2 separate regions of the Homo sapiens genome follow, and region 2 is linked to region 1. The links come from fine-mapping of genetic effects on gene expression. Tissue or cell type: esophagus mucosa. Region 1 holds a variant in brackets; the other region holds the start of a gene. All regions are shown on one strand. Distances are between the middles of the regions.

The links. PIP is the estimated chance that this variant, and not a neighbour inherited with it, causes the effect.
Region 2: MELTF starts here. The variant in region 1 is fine-mapped to the expression of MELTF in esophagus mucosa (GTEx, PIP above 0.99). The same link has a PIP of 0.9 or more in cerebellum and nasal epithelium.

The regions. Positions count from the first base shown.
Region 1 is chr3:196,996,830-197,007,383 of GRCh38, forward strand. MELTF (melanotransferrin) reads right to left here. Exons shown (of 16, transcript NM_005929.6): 14 at 9,720-9,907; 15 at 7,072-7,270; 16 at 4,911-6,622. The coding sequence ends at 6,543. It overlaps MELTF-AS1 (MELTF antisense RNA 1), which reads left to right and starts at 6,077. Exons shown (of 4, transcript NR_038285.1): 1 at 6,077-6,144; 2 at 6,773-7,141; 3 at 7,268-7,530; 4 at 7,665-7,915. It also overlaps the pseudogene RPSAP30. RefSeq lists silencers at 5,576-5,655, 5,806-6,595, 6,636-7,035. The variant T/C (reference allele first, on the strand shown) is at 5,006.
Region 2 is chr3:197,024,850-197,034,357 of GRCh38, forward strand. MELTF (melanotransferrin) reads right to left here and starts at 4,968. Exons shown (of 16, transcript NM_005929.6): 1 at 4,805-4,968; 2 at 2,907-3,061; 3 at 1,811-1,910. The coding sequence starts at 4,853. RefSeq lists silencers at 4,231-4,410, 4,601-4,650, 4,701-5,190 and enhancers at 4,724-5,360, 5,361-5,997, 6,385-7,584, 6,689-6,983.

The sequences.
Region 1 (10,554 bases):
GTGCTGCCACCTGAGCCGAACGCTTTTGTCTCTTTGCTCTGCTGTCCTGACCATGCGGTCCTTTTCCTTGTGCTTCTTGCTCCATTTTCCAGCGATCCTGTCCACTTTCCGGGCAGGAAGAGGGAGACGGGCTCCGGGGCAATGGGCTGTGCTAGCTGTTTGTTCCTCCTAAACAGCTGCCCTGAAACTTCTCAGGTTTCTTCAGCCAGAACCGAGTTGCCTGGGCACGCAGGAGTGAGTATTTGTACTTGGGCACGCTGCCACCCGAACAAAACTGGAGTCTGCTAGACAGGAAGAAGGGGAGAAGACCAGCAGCAGAGTCTGCCACAAGTTGTTGGATGGGGATCTTGGCTAAGGATGCCCTGCCCGGTAAACCACCAGGCCCTTCTCTTCAACCTCCAGCGACCCAAAGACTGACTTCAGTAGAGCAGATAACATTTGTTTTTTCTGTAGAGTTGGAGGTTTCCAGGGACATCAGAAGCTAGGAAGGAGGAAGGGGGGTATTCCGACCACGCACCACCTTCACATGCTGATCTCTGAGTTCTCTCCTGTTCTCGAGGGCCCTGCTCGGAATTGTGAGGGTGGGGAGTGCAGGGCCAGAGGGACGGGGGAGCCGCATGCTGGGAAAGGGTGAAGTCAGAATGCCATTCTACCGACAGCCTGCGTGCTCGGAGACCCGGGCCAGGCGCTGAGGCACCTTCCCGCACATTCCACCCCTCCACATGGAGCCCACGGGGGCCACGGACACAGACCTGGCTTGTCTTCCAGGCTGGGCCCAACTTCCTCCATGAAGTTCCCTGGTTAGGGGGAACCACTCACCCTTCCCACCCAAGCCCTGGACACCTTGGGGCAGGCACCTGTTAATGCGCTCATGGGGTGTGAGCTCACATTGCCCTGAACAGTGTTCTTCAAAGTGAGGTGGCTTGACCGGCAGCATCAGACCACCTGAGAACCTGCCAGGCTGGGGTGCAATGGTGCAATCATAGCTCAGAGCTCACTGCAATCTCAAACTCCTGGGCCCAACCAATCCTCCCCTGTCAGCCTCCCGAGTAGCTGGGATCACAGGCAAACACCACCACGCCTGGCTAATTAAAAACACTTTTGTGTCTGTGTGTGTGTGTGTGTGTGTGTGTAGAGGTTGGGCCTATGTTGCCCAGGCTGGTCTTGAACTACTGGCCTCAAGCAATCCTCACATCTCAGCTTCCCAAAGTTCTGGGATTACAGGCGTGAACCACCATGCCTGGCCAATATATACATTTTTAGAGATGGGAGTCTCACTATGTTGCCCAGGCTGGCCTCAACTCCTGGGCTCAAGCAATCCTCCTGCCTCAACCTCCAAGTAGCTGGGACTACAGGCATACACCATTGCACCCAGCTTCGCAGTCTATGTTTTAATAAACCCTCAGGTGATCCTCACATACGCTCAAGGCGAGAAGCTTTGACGTATATGACTCTCCGCTGTGAAACCCAGCTTCTGGCTTGTTAGCACCAACGCAGAGGCAGCTGAGAAAGGCAGAAACAAAAAGAGCCCACCCGGCCCCTCTCACTTCAGCACAGGCAACAACCCCGTGAAGACTCAGATGTGTTTTAGTCTAAGAATTACTGTTAGAGCTAGAAATCGTCGAGGCCCCATACCCGCTTCTCAGTTTATAGATTTGGGAACTGAGATGGGGAGAGGAGAAAGTATTGGCCCAGGGTGAATACCAAAGTGGAATGAGAATTCAAGTTTCCTGAATCTTAGGTGAGTGAGCTGGTTTTTATTCCACAAAATTGGAATATCTTTTTTTTTGAGGCAGGGTCTGGTCTGGAGTGCAGTGGCACCATCACGGCTCACCGGAACCTCCACCTCCCAGGCACAAGTGATCCTCCCACCTCAGCCTCCCAAGTAGCTGGAGGTACAGGTGTGGGCCACCACACTGGGCTAATTTTTTTAAAAATTGTTTGTAGAGATGGGGTCTCACTATGTTGCCCAGACTGGTCTTAAATTCCTGGGCTCAAGCGATTCTTCCACCTCAGCCTCCCAAAGGGCTGGGTTGACAGCGGTGAGCCACCACACCCAGCCTAATTAATATATCTTTTTAAAAAATTGTAGCATTTATACCTATTGTAAATGTTGTGTGAATCTTTTTCAAGAATGTTGTCCTGAGGAACACATCCTCATTGTAAACAGTCAAGAACACCTGGGGAGGAGTCTGAAGCTGGGGGTGACGGCTTGTGCCGTGTGGGCCACAAGGCCCTGTCTATCCTGTCACTGTCCCTCCTGCACAGCAGTGTTCTTCTACCACACCACCTCGGTGGCCTCTCCAAATGAGACCAAGGGGGGCAGGGCTAGTAGGCCGTGTACTTACTTCTTTGTACCTTCCAGAGCGCTGAGCACAGGGCTGTGCACACAGCAGGCTGGCCGACCCCAAGCACTTGTGGGGCCTAGGACAAGAGTACCAACAGAGGCCCGCCTACCATGTGGCTCCACATTAAATGTTACAAATCAAGCTAACAAGCTATTAAAGAGAATGTGTCCTGTCCTCCTACTTTGACAAACAAACCTTTATAAAGACTCAGCAGCCTAGAATAGGAGCTGCGGACAGAACAGGCTTCCCCGCCATAGCCCACCCGCTCTCTTCCCATCCAGGCTGCAACCCACGCTTCGAGGGCCTTGCGCATTGCAGAGGACACGGCAGCCTGCTCATCACGCTCAACTACACCTCCTGCGAGAGCTTTGGCCACCTTGGGAGGCAGGATCTAGGTAAGGGGCCCTCCAGACCCTGGAAGCTGGCTCAGGGCTGTTTGAGGTATAAAGTCCAGGATCCCAGGTATCTGGAACATGGTGTGAAAAATGGGCTCTGGGGCCAGGTGCGGTGGCTCATGCCTGTAATCCCTTTGGGAGGCCTTTGGGAGGCCGAGGTGGGCGGATCACGAGGTCAGGAGTTCGAGACCATCCTGGCCAACATGGTGAAACCCCATCTCTATGAAAAATACAAAGAGTAGCCATGTGTGGTGGTGGGCGCTTGTATTTCCAGCTACTTGAGAGGCTGAGGCAGGAGAATCACTTGAACCCGGAAGGCGGAGGTTGCAGTGAGCTAAGATTGTGCCACTGAACTCCAGCTTGGGCAACAGAGCAAGACTCCGTTTCAAAAAAAGAAAAGATGACCCCTGAGTGAACGCATCCCTTTTCCCTGTGATTGCTCCCTCTGTGGGTGGGGTGTGGGGTGTGGTCTGGGGGAGGCCTCTGAAGGCTTGCTTCTCAAAGTGTGGTCCCTGGACCACCAGCACAGGCACCACCTGGGAGCTGGTCTGAACTGCAGACTCTCAGTCTCATGCTGGCCCTTCTGAACCAGAGTCTACATTTTAACAAGATCCCCAGGCAGTTAATGTGCACATCAAGGTCTGAAAAGCACTGCTTGAAAGCACAAAACCGAGGACTAGAATCCCTCTTGCCTAGGTCTAGGGGTGGTACTGACAAGTAGGTATCAGTAAGTATTTGCTCAACAAATGGCCAATAGCCCTACAACAGGCCTGGTAGCCATGGGGGTGCTGGGGCATGGCTGCCTGACTCACAAGGATTTCATTTCCTTTTTCTGGGGCCTCGGTGGCCATGTGTCCGCTATACACCCTGCTTCTGGCCTGTGCTGACTGGTCCAGTGGTAGATGCCTGACGCACACTGGGCCAATCAGATGATCTCTCCCAGGAATTCCAAATTGAAGACAAGAAAACAGGCTCTGGAGTAATAGCAGTAGTGACAGTGAACATCCTTCCTGCACCCACCGTGTGCCAAGCACTGTGCTGAGTGTTTTGTGTCTTAGACTCTATGCCATGTGCCAAGCACTGTGCTGAGTGTTTTGTGTCTTAGACTCTATGCCGTGTGCCAAGCACTGTGCTGAGTGTTTTGTGTCTTAGACTCTATGCCGTGTGCCAAGCACTGTGCTGAGTGTTTTGTGTCTTAGACTCTATGCCGTGTGCCAAGCACTGTGCTGAGTGTTTTGTGTCTTAGACTCTATGCCGTGTGCCAAGCACTGTGCAGTGTTTTGTGTCTTAGTCTCTATGCCGTGTGCCAAGCACTGTGCTGAGTGTTTTGCATCTTAGACTGGATCTTCACAACCACCTCACCAAGCTGGTGATCGTACTGTGTGTTTTTCAGATGAGGGGCTAGGGTGCCCAAAGGTTAACTTTCCTTTCCAGAAGTTCAGGGTAGGGAAGTGGTAGCATGAGGCGAGCTGGAGTGACTGTGCAGCTGAGACTCGTCCATGTGATGCAGAGACAAAGTCGGTCAACTCTGGCCATCCAGGTCCCCAGGAATTGACTGGCTTTGTGATAACTGAGCCGACTTCATGGAAAATGGCCTGTGTGCAGTGGTGGGCAAGACCTGGCTCTGGGAGATGGCCACAGCGGCGAGGGGTGGTGGTGTGGGGGCCAAGTGAAGCCATGAGAGAGGGAAGCAGAGAAAACCTCCCCTTCCAGAGGGAGAGCAGAGCACTGATGAAGACCAGCCGGGCCCACCCCCACCTCAGTAGATACCACAGAGCACCCACTGTAGGGTCTCTGGGAGATCCGCTCCCCACGCCCCCCTCCAGTGAGTTAGCAGCGAGCTTGCCAGAGAAAAGATGTGGGCCGCTTATTTTGGAGGTGTGGGGCAGGGGGCAGCAGAGAAGTTTGCACCCTTCTCTGCACCCATCCACAGAAGGGCAGACACCCCAGAGCCTGATGGGGTGGAGGCAGCTGGAATGTGCCAGGGCAGCGGAGGCCCTGCAAGAGCCAGAGAACCAGTCCAGGTCGAAGAAGGGCGCGGGGGGCCTCACTGACTAGAGGATGAGAGTGGTCCCTGACTGGCTCTTGGAGAATGGAATCTGCCCTTCTCGGTGGAGCAGGTAGGCCTTTGAGTGCCTAACAAAACGAAAGAAATCGGCAGCAGAAGTTTCTATCAGGGTCCAAGCCTCTGCATGTGCTGGCTTGTTTGGCTTTATTTTAGAAACCAACCAACATGTTTCATTAGCACTGACACAGCAGGGG[T/C]CCCCTGCTGCCACCTGACAATCCAGCGTCACTTACACTGCACCCACGCAGGCCACACCTTCAATGGCCACGGCACGCTAGCCCAGAGTTAGCCACACAGAAACACACTTCTCACCGCACAAAACTCCCTTTTGAAAAAACCAAGCAATCGTCAGGTCGGAGGAGAATCACTAGCCCCCCACAGCGAGAGGGGACAAAGCTTGGTGGCCGAGGCCCAGGTCCTTGTGGCCCCTCCCGGTGGGGTGAAGGTGCCCGGGACTCCTCGGGGTTGCATGGCTACAGCCGGGGCGCTGCCAGGGCCTCCTCTGCGGCTGAGAGATGGAAGGGATCCTTCCCGACGCCCGCAGGTGGGGGCGAGCCACCGGGAACCGGGCCTGTCACCAGCATCCCCGAGCCCCCGCAGACCGGAATGCAAATGGCTCCGCGCCCACGCGGCTCCCGGTCTGCTGACGAGGGCTGCCTGCTCCCATTTCTTCTCTTCCTCTTCATTTTTTTTAAGGGCTGCCAGTTCTGGAAACTTTTTCTGGCTTCTCAGACAACTGTGGCAAGATGGAGTAGAGAGAGGCCCCGGCCGGGCGCTTTCTGCTGCCTCGCGGAGGGGCGGGCACGGGGAGTGAGGGGTCCCCAGGCCCAGCGGGTGCGGGGCCGGGTGAGGAGACGGAGCTCACCCCCGTTCGGAACCCAGAAGCATGGCGGGTCCCCACGCGCAGCCCTTCAGGGGCCTCGGGAGCCCGCGGCCTGGGTCACCTCCGGCTCCCTTCAGGCGGGGGGCGGCTGCTGCCGCCAGGCTCGGGCGTGGGTGCGGGCGGTGGGCATCCCACGGGGGTAGGGGAGGCGAGAGCCTGAGGAGACTCGGGAGGGGGCCCGTGGACGCGGCTGGCCCGGGATGGAGCTGGCGCGGCCACAGTGGGGGACGAGGCAGGGCACGCGGCGTTCCCCGGGCTCGGCCTCCCTCCCAGCGCACGGGCGGTCGGAGGAACTGGAGCCCCCACCCCGGACACGGTCCCGCGGGCGAAGGCTTCTCCCCGTCGCCCCGGTCCGGCCTCCCTCCCGCCGCCGCCAGCAGAGGCCGCTGTCCCACGCGCCGGGTCCCGTTGGCGCCGGGGCCTCCTGGGACGGCCTGGCCGCGGCCTGCGGGTGTAGGCGCCTCGGCGGCCACCGCGTCCCCAGGGGGCCTCGCGGACGGGGGCGCGGGGCTGCGGGGAGGAGGCGGGCGGGCCCCTCGGGCGACACCGCGGGGCGGGCGGCGGGAAGCCCGGACTCAGCGGTTTCCTGGGCAACCGGCCTCCTCCGGCGCGGCCCGCGCGGCTCCAGGTGGCGGGAGGCGGCGGTTGGCGGGAAGGGCCGCGCGGGCCCGGGGGCGGCGCCTCAGGTAGCAGCGCCAGGTGGCGCCCGTGGGCGGCGGGGCTCCCGGGGAGGCGCCTGCTCCCGCCCACGCCGGGCCCGGCCTTCGCGAGCTTCCTTCTGGATTCCAGCGCGAAGCCGCCGCGGAAACTCCCCGGGCGGGCATCGGAGCTCTGGGGCGGGGCGGCCGGGCTCAGAGGGCGGGCGGGAGCAGGCGGGCGGCGAGGGCGGGCAGCAGCAGCGGGAGCAGGGGCGCCCCGGGCGCCGGGGCCGCTGGGGACGAACGCGGCGGGTCAGGCCCCGAAGCCCGGGCCGCGGTGGCCGCCTCAGGCGCCCGCTCTGGGGTGGGGGTGGGGGCATCTTTCGGGACCGAACTCGCCGCAGCCTCCCTCTTTGTGCTCCTTTCCCCTGCTGCCCTTCCAGATGCGCTCTTTCCAGAAAGGCAGCACACGCATGTCTCTGCCGTGGCCCCAGATCCTCCCCGCGCCGCCGTTTTGAGCGTTCACACTCATTACCCAGGTCCGTCTGGGAGACCCGCCGGGCTCCCGCCCTCCCGGCCCGCAGCCTCCTGGCCAAAATCCTCCCGGGACACCCCACCTGGACTGCTGCGAACGGGCCTCCACCCGCCTCCCCGGACCCGCAGCGCCCCCCGCTCCCTCAGGGTTCTGGGGTGAAGGGGTCTGAATAGCACCAGGGGAGGCGGCAGGGCGGGCCTGTCCTACCTGCGCCCGAGCACTGCTGAGACGACATCCCTTCCAGCGCCGCCACGTAGTCCAGCCCCAGCCAGCCGCGGTAGGTGGTTTTCTCTCCGACAGGCACCGCCCGGACGGTGGCATCCTTGAAAAGCAGGTCTTGGCCATGATAGTTGGAGGAGTCGAACATTTTGAACCCGTTCTTATTGTGGTCGTCTCCAAACAGGTCCTGGAAGCACCGCAGGCAGACGACCTGCTCCTCACTGGGCTCAGGCAGGGTCACCCGCCCAGTGCCGCTAGCTGCAAATTGCTTTACATACAGTGACCCAAAGAGCAAGTCATTTCAGGGCCCCACCACTCTGATTGGAAGTCATAAGCTTGACAACTGATTGGCCTCTGTCACCCAAGCGGGTGTGGGGACACTAGGCCCGCAGGTGCCACTGGAAGAGGCGTTCAGAAGCACTGCGGTGCTCCAGCTCCTGGATGCAGGTCTGAGGCCTGAGATGTCCAGGAAGAAAGACCCAGAAATGAGGGATGGTGTGGGTGGGATTCCTGAGCGTTCTGCTAGGCCTGCTGAGCACTTCTTGGCCTTTTCCATAAGGCTTTCTCACTCTGTCTTACAGATATCTCCCCACAAACCTAAACAATTTCGAGAGGGACTTGTGTTCTGCAACCAGTCACAGAATATCAGGTGAGCTGGGCGTGTCTTCACTGACCCACCCGCCCAGGGATGCTGCACTCCTCTCCACCCTGCTCAGAATCACTAGAATGACCGTTCTGTGGCTACAGCCCTAAAAGAGCTACTAAAAAGACCAGAAGTAGTATGAGAACTTATGAATACGAATATAAATAAAGGACATCTGGAGAACATGCATGAATGTCTATGTAAAGTGTTAAGTACTGATCAAGGAGGAACGAAGGAGTCAGGTGGCTCTCAGTCTTTTTGGAGGGACTCGCAGATCCTCCTGAAGATCTGATGAAAGCTGTCAGCCTTCTCCCCAGAAAAATGCACATCCACCCAGGATTCTTCTCCCACATTACTTCAGAGGACTTAGCAACCCCCTAGGGAAGCCCAGGGACCCAGAGTAAAGCACTCCTGGGATAGAGGGGTTCTGTGGGGAAGATGACAGGAAGGAACATGCGTCAGTTCACAATGTCAAAGTTTAGGAACAGGCCTGGCGAGCCAGCCAGCTCTGCAGTTCTGTGGTGCTGGTGGGTGTGGAGAAGGCAATTTCAGCATAAGTCGGGGGAGGGGGAGTGGTTAGAAACCAGTGGCTCCATTGTGAGACAACCTGGGTTTAAATTCTAGGTATATTTTGAAAGCACAACCAATGGGATCTGCTGATAGATTGGCTGTAGAGCACGAGAGGAAGACCGGAGTCAAAAATGACTCCCGAGGAAATGGAAAAGCTAAAGTTGCTCTTAATTGAAGTGGGGAAGACTGAAGGAGGGACGGGGGTCCAACTTTGGACTTGATCCATTTGAGATGACTGTTAGAAACACAAGTCAAAATGTCAAGTATGTAGTTAAATATGCAAGTTTGGGACTGATGTCTGAAGATGTAAATTTAGAAGCCATCTGTATATAGATGGTATTTGATGACATGGGATTGGATGAGATCAAGGGTAAGCTGTAGACAGGGAAGAGGGCTGAGAACTGAATCCTAGGGCTAACAGGTCAGGGAGATGGGGAGGAAATCAGCAGAGAAGACTGAGGAGTGGCCAGAGAGTGAGAGGACAGCCAGGCAGGGCTGAGGACCTGGGCATCTGCAGGGGAAGGTGTTTCCAGGAGGAGGGAGAGCTGTGGCCAGTGCCACTGAGAGGTCAAGTAAAATGAAGACTGAGAAATGGCCACTGGGTTTAGCAACATGGGTCACTGTGACCTTGACAAGAACAGCTTCAGGGCCCTGGTGGGAGCCTGTCTGGGGTAGTCTCCATCCTTAAGAGGGGCCAGAGGAGAGGACTTGCTAACTCAGTCTCCATCCTTAAGAGAGGCCAGAGGAGAGGACTTGTTAACTCCAGAGCAGACCACTCTTTGGAGGAGTTTTGCTTCGAAAGGGAGCAGGATTGGCCGGGCACAGTGGCTCATGCCTGTAATCCCAGCACTTTGGGAGGCCGAGGTGGGCGGATCACGAGGTCAGGAGATCGAGACCATCCTGGCTAACACGGTGAAACCCCTTCTCTACTAAAAAATAGAAAAAATTAGCCAGGCATGGTGGCGGGTGCCTGTAGTCCCAGCTACTCAGGAGGCTGAGGTGGGAGAATGGCGTGAACCCGGGAGGCGGAGCTTGCAGTGAGCCGAGATAGTGCCACTGCACTCCAGCCTGGGGCGACAGAGTAAGACTCCGTCTCAAAAAAAAAAGAAAAAAAGGGAGCAGGATTACAGCTGCAAGAGGATGGATGTGAGACCAAGAGGTTAGTTTGTTCTTTAAGGATGGCAGAAGTCACAGCATGTTTCATGTTGGTGAAAATGGTCCGACTGAGAAGGGAAAATCAACGATGCAGGAGGCAGAGGGGACAGTTTCTGGAGGGATGTCCTTGCGTAAGTGAAAATCACAGAATTTCCCCCGGGCTTCCTCAATTTCTCTAGAGGTCTGCTCCAGGTAGACTGAGGCCTCCCAGGGGCTCAGCTTACCTCTGCTGCACACCCCTCAATGAGGTAGCCCCACCCTGGCTCACCTGGGCCTTGTCCAGCAGTCCATACACGGTGAAGATGTTGGTGTCGGGCCGGACCATCACGGCGTGGGGTGGTATCTGTGCCAGGTTGCAGGCTGCAAACTGGGACACCTCGGCTCGGGCCCCGTTGGGGCACAGCAGTTCATAGTCCTCTGACCTGAGCTCAGCAGCCCAGGGCTCGGAATTGTGGCCTGAGGGGGGTAAAGCAGTGTGTGTGGGGACGTTCCGGGAGTGGAGAGAAGTGTAAAGAGAAGCTGCTATCCTGGGACCCCAAGGCCTTCACCACAGGGAGGTGGCAACATCTGGCCAGCTCCCCAACCCTCTCCATTCTCCACGTGCTCTGCTGTGTTACCGGGGTGAAAGAACCCAGCTGTGTTCATGCCATTAGCAGGAGCTGCCATTAATTAGCAGGGAGTAGGGAGTACCTACTATGTGACAAGTACTTTACACGCGTTGCTTGATCCCCACAACAGTAACGCAGGGTAGGTGTTTTTGTCCCCATTTTACAGGTGAGGAAACTGAGGCTGTTAATCACTCCCAGGCAGAGAACCCCATCTATGTGTTACATCCTCAAGCCTGAGTGTGGGGTGGCTCCCTGAAGGTGGTGGGTGATTGTCCCTAAGGGCTGAAGTTCTCAAATGGAACAGGGTATAGCATCACTTGTGGATGCAGAAGGCAGCTTCAAGGGCCCTTGCTTGCAAAGAATCTTATTCAGGAGGTCTCAGATCAGGCTCAAGAATCTGCATGTTAAACCAGCATCCCACTGATTCTAAAGCAGGCGGTCTCGGGCTGCCTGAGAAAATGCTGCCCTCAGGAATCACATTTTCATGTCTCTGTG
Region 2 (9,508 bases), 27 kb after region 1:
CCCCTAGGAGAACTTGGAGGGTTTGGGGGAATGGTGTCAGGGTCATGGGAAGAAGGGTGTCTGGGAGGAGCAGGGGAGCCGAGGAGGGGCTTCCCCAGATGAGGAGCGGCGATTTCCTGGTGCTGAGGGGGTTGAAGGAGAGTGAGACAGAGGCAGAGACAGAGAGAACTAGCGATGTGGCCCCAAGTCGCTCACGACCCTGAATGCTGCAGGGTGTGTGTGGTGGGGCCAGGGCTCTGCAGCCTTGCAAAGCGTTCCCCTGTGCCAAGGTGGCTCCAAGGGGCTGCTCAGGCAAAACACAGACTCAGCTGTGGGAACTGATGCCCAGAGGGTCTCCCATCGCACGGGCGCACACACGCAGGCATGCACGCGTGCACAAACTGCCCGGTGGTGTGGGAGGCCATATCAGAATGAAGTTGAGTTCTAGAACATAAAGCCAGTGTTACTTCTTGCACACCAGGGTCTGGCCCCCGCCAACCTGAGTAGCTCCGTCTGGTACCATCCTCTGACTCACCCGCCTTGTTTCTTACCAATCCTCTGGACCGCCTGAGATGGTTGCGGGGCTCAGCTTACCCATCACCTCTGCAGAGCACCGTCCTGCCTGCTCTATTTCAGTGGATTTCCCCGCAACCCTCGTTTTCTCTGTCCTGCCCTTCCCTTTTCCTCACAGCACCCCAACATGTGTCACTGTATTGTTTTGGGTGTGTTTATTTACTCTCTGCTCTGTGGGGGCAGGAAGGTCTCTTCGTTTACTGCTGCATGCTTATGACCAGCGGGTAGCAGGTGCTCAGTAGAGGTGTCGAGTTAATTAAAGAGGAAGAGGTGCGTGGGGCCTCGGAGGCAGAGCTGTTTCTGGCTGATGGGTGTGCAGGGTTGGACTGTGCCGTGTGTCATTTGATGGCCATTAATTCAACAAGGAACCAGCCAGTGCTTTCTCCAAGCGAGATGCTGTGTGGAGTTCCAGAGGGTAGACACAGGGGAAGACTGGACCCTCCTCTGAGGACTAACGAGACTGAGCAGGCAGAGGCTTGCAGAGGCCATGTGGGTGCGGGCAAGAGAGGCCCTGCTCCAGAGAGGGAGGGGCTCAGGGAGCACCTTGGAGGAGGTGACAGTTGCGCTGGACTGTGATGGAGGCCAGGCACCGGCCAAGCAGAGGTGGCGGGGGAGACACAGGAGCTGGCTGAGCTGGAGGCAGGTCCCATGTGTGATGCGGGGACTGGGCAAAGGAACTCACACTTTCCAGCACATACCACATGTCAGGTGGGCACACGGCCTGGCTCATTTAGTCTGGGTGACAGCGCAGGTGTTACTATCCCCATTATACAGTCTGGGAAGTGGAGGTTGGCCAAGGTCACAGAAGTCATGGGAAGGGGAAGGGCTGGGTCTGCTGAGCTGTGCCGCTGCCAGACAGCACCTCCCTACCCGGAGCCGGGCTTCTGAAGGGAGGCCCTGAGAGTGCAGGTGGCTCGGCATTAAGGACGCCTTGCTCACCCAAGGCAGTTACGCACACAGCACCGTGCCCGGCACCACGCCAGGCCCGGGACAGCCCGCAGTAAGAGCTGAGTGGGCACAGGCTAGGGGGCTGCTGGGCTCCCTGCGGGCAAGAGCAGACTTGGGGCAGCTCTCTGTGTCCCTGGAGCTCCTGTCCCTGGGGAATTTGAGAGAGCCTTAGGGCGTTCTTCTGGCTGGGACTCCAGGACTGCTCTGTGGACAGGGCTGATGGCCAGCTCAGGCCAGGCCCAGCAAGGGCAGCCTGGAGAGCTGACTTCCAGCGCAGGCTGTCCTCTCTCCTCCCACTGCACCCTCTTACCTTGATCGTACACTTCGCCCACCACCGGCTTCAGGCCGTGCTCCTTTCCCGCCTCATAGATGGCTCCTCCATCCAGAGTGATGGCGTCAGCCTCCTGGGCCTGCAAGGAAATGTGGCTCAGCCAAGCCTGGCCCAGCTGGCCTGCTCAGCAAAGAACTCGGGACACCTACCAGATGGCCTGGGGCCCCACCCCAAGCCCCAGAGGGCTGTGCTGTCCTTCTCATCTGTCCCAGGAGCCCAACCAGAGCCCAGGGCTCTCCCCCTTTCCCAGGCCAGGGATTCACCTTGTTTTCCTAATAATGTTAAAAAAAAAATACTAATCATTGATTTTGCAGGACTCAGATATCATAGTAAAAAAATCAGATAGCAGAAAACGGTGCGCAGTGACAAGTGAGTCTCCCTCGCTTTCTGTCCCTCCACCCTGCGCCTCTACTGCTACCCTAGGTTTTCTAGCTTTTTTTCTCTAAGGTGGTCTGTGCTTGGGGTTTCTGCCCTCACATGGAGCCTGACCCACAGCCTTGGCCCCAGTGTGGGCCTGTGATTGGATTAGGTCTTGGGGGCATATGGGGGGCAGAGCTGGAATGAAAAGCCAGCTTTCTTTGCACCCACCCAGGAGGGACGCCACTCTCTGGTGGTGCCTCGGAGGATTGTCAGTGTCATTTAGCAGTTCTCAGCAGACCTGCTCTCCTACCCCATGCTCACCCACCTGGGAGTCCAGCCCCTGCTCCTCCTTCCCCAGAAACCACACAAGCCCCATTCTGGAGAGCCCCATGGCAAGATGAGCAAGTAACCGCCTGCGGCCACTGAGGGGCCGCCACCATCTGGGCCCCCTTGGCAGGGGCCTTGTGGAAGGGAAGCCTCTCAGGTGCCTTTCTTTGCTGGCGCCCTCTGAGCAGCGGGTCCTCCTGAGGCTCCCACCTCCTGGCCTGGGCCCGGCGGGAGGCAAGCTGGCCTCGTGGCCAGGGAGACTCGGGAGATCCTATCGGCCGGGCCTGGCAGGGCGAGGTCGGCTCCTTTCCTGGTGAATGGGGCTGTTGTGTGCTCCCTCCTGAGTCACAGCCCTCTTGTCTGGCAGGGTGGAAGGGAGAGGACTCACCGCGATGAGCTGGACGCAGTGGTCGGCGGAGGTGCCCCGGACGCAGAGGAGGGAGGGCTGGATGCCCGCTTCCCGGAAGGCCTCGCTCATGTTGCCGCACTTGTGCTGCTCTGGGTCCGAGGTGGCGCACCACCGCACCTCCATGCCACCGAGCACTGCGGGCAGGGGACCGTGAGGCCCGGCTCCCCCGCCCTGCCCAGCCCCGGCCCACCATGGAGGGTGGCTCCAGCAGTTCTGTGTGAGCCCATTCGCCTGGACAGCCAGTCCTCTAGGGCAGCCCTGCCCTCCCACAGGGAGGCACTAGGCGCAGAGACAGGGGAAGGGCTGGTATTCCTGTGCTCAGGGCCTCTCTGACCAGGAGCACGGCTGCTGGCAAATGGAATGGCTCAGAACCCGGCCCTTTATGGAGGAATGGGAGGGTCTACAGGTCGCTTCTCAGCTACCCCCACCTGGTGGGAGCACTGGCTAGGGAGTCTCGGCAGGCCCTGGAAGTGGAAGCTTCTTCCCCTCTCCAGGCCTCCCGAAGAGGGTGCTCGTGTAGGTTCCCTCACCCAGCAGTGTCCCTGGGCCTTCCTCATGAACTGGGACGGGAGAGTGAGGTGAGGGGGCTGTGGGTGGGCTGCCCTCCAGGAGCCCTGTCCCCTCGGGGAGTGTCTGCGATGATGCTGGCTGCAAAGCCACCCTCGGTGGGCACAGTGCCAGGCCCTGCCAAGGGAAGACGGCAGGCACAGAGGGGAGGCTGAGGACCCATCAGGGTAGGTTCAAGCCTCTCTGAGCCTGCTTCATCTTCTGAGAGAGCAGATAAAAACCCCACCTTCTGTGTTGAAAGTAAACCCCCTTGTAGAGAGCCTGAGACACCCACATCCTCAGTGGACTTCTGCTTATGCCTCAGGATCTGACCGGGTCAGAGTCCCCGAGAGCTCCCAGGCTAGGGGCCCAGAGGAAGGGGTGCTGGAGCCCCTTGGGGCCGATGACTTTCAGGCCTGAGCTCCTCTGCCATTCACCCTGCCCCAGCCAGCACTGCCAGAGGCCTGTGCAGGAGGGAGGGAAACGCATGACTCCGCCCGAAACCAGGTCACCCTCCCGTGGCAGCCCCACCAGCCCAAGGGCCGAGACTGAAGCTTCCGCCACAGCCCTCCCCTCCCCACTCCTGGCGGAGGCCTGGGAAGTCGAACTGCCCTCCCCTCCGCAGCGCTCCAAGCCCCCCACCACCCAGGCGGGAAACTGCAAAGTTCAGACGGGGCGGGGGTGGCGGTGGCTTCATCGTTTGCATTGATGAGTGCGTCGCCTGCGGCCACAGCGGTGCCACGAACTCCATCCCCTCGGCGGTCGCCGCCCGCGATCCCCGCGAGCCGCTCCCCGAGGTCCCGCCTCCCGTCCCACCATCCCGGGCCCTGACTCCCCGGGGCGCCGACGCGAGGGGACCCGGCCTCCGTCTCCACCTCCATCCCTGCATGTGCCAGAAACCCCCGGGCGGACTCCCGCGCCTGCCGGTCAGTCCCTCTGAATCTTCTCCCGCGGGGGCTCGGGAGAAAGAGCTGCTCCGAGCCCCCAAAGTCTTCCTGAGTTCCTGCGCCCGTCGGGAGGGGCCGCCCTCCGGGAGCTCCTCTCCACACCCCGAGGCCTCCCCACCACGCCTCAGCCCGCGCTTCTCCTTGGAGCGTCGGAAGCCTCGGGTGTTCGAGGCCGCCTCCTCCAAGAAGCCTTCCAGACTTCCCCGTCTGCGCTTCAGTGCTAGTTCCCTCCGCCGTCCTCACTCGACCCCGAGCCCCTGCCTCCCCCGTCTCACTGCCCCGGAGCCGCAGGCTCAGGCACATTTCCAGCCCCGGGACCTGCTCAGCCGGGCCGCGGCGCCCCGGGACCCCCGCCCGCCTTTGGCTCTCACAGCGGGGCCTCACCGGTGCGCAGAGCCAGGAGCAGCCACAGAGCCCCGCTCGGACCCCGCATGGCGCCGTCGGGGCTGGCTGGGGCCGGGCTGGGGCTGGGTCCGGGTCCGAGGAGGTCCGCAGCAGCCGGGCTTCCTCCCTGCTCCCCCTCGCGCTGGCCCGAGCTCCTTAAGTGCGGCCGCGAGTTCCCGGGCGGAATCCACGCCCCTGGGGCGCAGGTCACCTCCCGCCGACCCCGGACCCCGCCCCTGGGCGGCCCCGGCGCGCCCCCTGCTGGAGGCCTCCCGCTCGGGCCCGGGCGCCGCTGCTCGGGGCTCTCGCCTCAGCCTCCTACCCCGCGTTCCAGGGTATCCTCCCCTCCTCGCGCCCTAGAAAGACTCCAGATACCGTGTCTAACTGGAGAGAGAAAAGCTCAGACGTGGAAGGAAGGAGAGGTCAGAATCCCAGAGTCGGGGCTGGAGGGCAGCTGGAGGATGATCTCATTCACGCAGCAGCTCCCTCCCAGCACAGCTGCACAGAGGATCTGGGATACGGGGGAGCCCAGGCCGAGCGCCCTGGCGAGGGGGGAGCCGGGCAGGGGCATCTCGGCCACAGCTGCACAGAGGATCTGGGATACGGGGGAGCCCAGGCCGAGCGCCCTGGCGAGGGGGGAGCCGGGCAGGGGCATCTCGGCCACAGCTGCACAGAGGATCTGGGATACGGGGGAGCCCAGGCCGAGCGCCCTGGCGAGGGGGGAGCCGGGCAGGGGCATCTCGGCCACAGCTGCACAGAGGATCTGGGATACGGGGGAGCCCAGGCCGAGCGCCCTGGCGAGGGGGGAGCCGGGCAGGGGCATCTCGGCCTAGCCGACTGCCTCTCCTCGGGCCTAGAGACGGGAGGTGACTTGCCCGAGTCAGGCATCCAGTCAGTGGCAGAGCCAGCTGATTGGAAGGTGAGAAGAGGACCAGAGAGGAATTGGAGGAAGCGGAAAAGGAGAAACAGGCGGAGAAGGGGAGGAAGAGAGTGAAGAAGGTGAGGGAGGAAAGGGTGGGTTGACCGTATTTCTAGGACAGTGGTTCTCAGTGTGGTCCCTAGGCCAGCAACGTGAGCATCACCCTGGAACTTGCTGGAAATGCAAGTGCTCAGGCCCCACCTCCGACCCACTGGATCGACAGCTCTGGGGGCGGGGCCCACAATCTGTTTTTATTTCGGGGCACAGCAAATGTTGAGAACCACTGTCGCAGGCGGGCAAAAGCGGCACTCCCCATGTGGTTGGGGATGCGGGGAATGAACTGAAGACATTGTTAGTCACCTGCCTCCATTTAGGCCTCACCTTTATGTCATCAGCCCCTCTGAGACTCAGAAATGATGTCTCTCTCTGACATGGGTAAGTACAACAGTGAGAGAGAAGACATCCCTCTGAGTTTGTCTGTCCTTGAGCTTGCTCTGCGCCCTGGGGAAGGAAGGCCTCCCTCCTATGGGGCCATGAAGCTACTGCTTATCACACACTGGATCAGGGGAAGGAACATGGGCTGGGCTTCAGGAGACTCGAGCTCTACTTTTTAAAAACCAGCGACTTACAGACCCTGGGCGAGTTCGTCGCCCTCTCTGGGCTTGTTCCCCACATGTAAAAGGTAGGTCATGATGGCCGTGACGTGCCATACTTTCCGTCTCCTGTCTGCTCTGGAGGACTTGTGCTGTGGAAGCTGTTTCTCCATCCCCCCAGATGGATCCCTTCTTCCTAGTTTGCACAAAGGTGCCGAATGGACTAGCAGGCAGCCTTGCTAGAGGGGCTGATGGCTTGTCCTAAGAAGATGGAATAAATAGAAGAGTCCTTAACAAGCCTCGTTCTCCTGACCACGAGGATAGAAAGGCTCAGTTGGCACACTCCAGGAGCCACCAGATGACTGGCAGGATCTGTTTGATGACTAAGTCCTTCCTTTGGCAAAACTCCACGTGACGCTGATAGGGAGTGAGAACAACCATAACCTAAGAGGTTTGCTGGGCTCTTTCACAATGAAGTTCTTCCCTTATCTCTTGGGTGTCATTCAGCTGTGACTCATCAGTGAACTTGCTGCCTCTGGGTTCTCAGGGATTCTACATCGGGCCCGTTGGCCCAGGGTTGGCATGAACGCGCATCACCTTTGTGGAATGGGGAAGTCTGCCTCAGCTTGAGCCAGGATTCTGCCATTTCTGGGGTCCGGACATACTTGGGTGTGCCAGAGAAATGGGTGGGATGTAATGAGAGAGTAATAAGCCAGTAGTTTAACCCACAAACAGCCTTCTGGAGGAGCAGAAGCTGAGGTTAGTTTGGTCCCCATTCTAGACTCATATTGAGATTAGAGGGAGAGCATACAGACTAAAGGAACTGGTTTCACTGACACTTCGATCAGATTCTGGGGCCTAAGCAGCTCTGCCTGAGTCTCCCTGACCCTACCCCATAATATGAAATAAAAAGAGCTCTTCTCCACTCTTGCCAAAGACACAGCTCTGGCTCTCCAAGGATTCAGAGTGCCCAGAAGCATTGAGCTTGCTTGTCAGGGAATCGAGGAACAGTACATCCCATGGAGGGAATACACTACAGGCAGCCTCAGAAAGTGGGGGCCTTTGACAGGAGACTGAGAAGGTCCATCAGCAGGTAGTGGCTAATGAGCCAGCAAAGGGTGAAATCCTTTACCCAAAACGAAGTAAAATATTGTACTTAGGAAAAAATATTTTTCAACAAATCATAATTTCTGTCTGTCTATTTCTATGGCCCGCAATGTCTTTAAGAACAAGCCAAATAGTTTTTATTCTGGGGAACCCTTGGAAGGCTGGTGTGCCCTGAGAAAGTTTGGGTGTGAGCACCTGCAGTAGTGTGATGTCAGAGGATGTTACGCTCTTGCTGACTGGTTGGGGTGTCAGCACCTGCAGTCGTGTGATGTCAGAAGATTTTACACTCTTGCTGACTGGTTGTGGTGTGAGCACCTGCAGTAGTGTGATGTCAGAGGATGTTACCCTCTTGCTGACTTGTTGGGGTGTGAGCACCTGAAGTAGTGTGATGTCAGAGGATGTTACACTCTTGCTGATGGGTTGGGGTGTGAGCACCTGCAGTCGTGTGATGTCAGAAGATTTTACACTCTTGCTGACTGGTTGGGGTGTCAGCACCTGCAGTAGTGTGATGTCAGAGGATGTTACACTCTTGCTGACTGGTTGGGACATGAGCACCTGCAGTAGTGTGATGTCAGAGGATGTTACACTCTTGCTGATGGGTTGGGTGTGAGCACCTGAAGTAGTGTGATGTCAGAAGATTTTACACTCTTGCTGACTGGTTGGGGTGTGAGCACCTGCAGTAGTGTGATGTCAGAGGATGTTACCTCTCTTGCTGACTGGTTGGGGTGTGAGCACCTGCAGTCGTGTGATGTCAGAAGATTTTACACTCTTGCTGACTGGTTGGGGTGTGAGCACCTGCAGTAGTGTGATGTCAGAGGATGTTACACTCTTGCTGACTGGTTACTGTGTGAGCACCTGCTGTAGTGTGATGTCAGAGGATGTTACACTCTTGCTGACGGGTTGGGGTGTCAGCATCTGCAGTAGTGTGATGTCAGAGGATGTTACCCTCTTGCTGACTTGTTGGGGTGTGAGCACCTGCAGTAGTGTGATGTCAGAGGATGTTACACTCTTGCTGATGGGTTGGGGTGTGAGCATCTGCAGTAGTGTGATGTCACAGGATGTTACGCTCTTGCTGACTGGTTGGGACGTTAGCACCTGCAGTAGTGTGATGTCACAGGATGTTACACTCTTGCTGACTGGTTGGGGTGTGAGCACCTGCAGTAGTGTGATGTCAGAGGATGTTACACTCTTGCTGACTGGTTTGGGTGTGAGCACCTGCAGTAGTGTGATGTCAGAGGATGTTACACTCTTGCTGACGGGTTGGCGTGTGAGCACCTGCAGTAGTGTGATGTCAGAGGATGTTACTCTCTTGCTGACTGGTTTGGGTGTGAGCACCTGCAGTAGTGTGATGTCAGAGGATGTTACACTCTTGCCAACTGGTTGGGGTGTGAGCATCTGCAGTAGTGTGATGTCAGAGGATGTTACACTCTTGCCAACTGGTTGGGGTGTGAGCATCTGCAGTAGTGTGATGTCAGAGGATGTTACTCTCTTGCTGACTGGTTACTGTGTGAGCACCTGCAGTAGTGTGATGTCAGAGGATGTTACACTCTTGCTGACTGGTTGGGTGTGAGCACCTGCAGTCGTGTGATGTCAGAAGATTTTACACTCTTGCTGACTGGTTGTGGTGTGAGCACCTGCAGTAGTGTGATGTCAGAGCATGTTACACTCTTGCTGACTGGTTGGGTGTGAGCACCTGCAGTCGTGTGATGTCAGAGGATGTTACACTCTTGCTGACTGGTTGGGGTGAGTACCTGCAGTAGTGTGATGTCAGAGGATGTTACACTCTTGCTGACTGGTTGGGACATGAGCACCTGCAGTAGTGTGATGTCAGAGGATGTTACGCTCTTGCTGGCTGGTTGGGGTGTGAGCACCTGCAGTGGTGTGATGTCAGAGGATGTTACTCTCCTGCTGACGGGATGGGATGTGAGCACCTGCAGTAGTGTGATGTCAGAGGATGTTACGCTCTTGCTGACTGGTTGGGGTGTGAGCACCTGCAGTAGTGTGATGTCAGAGGATGTTACTCTCTTGCTGACTGGTTGGGGTGTGAGCACCTGCAGTAGTGTGATGTCAGAGGATGTTACGCTC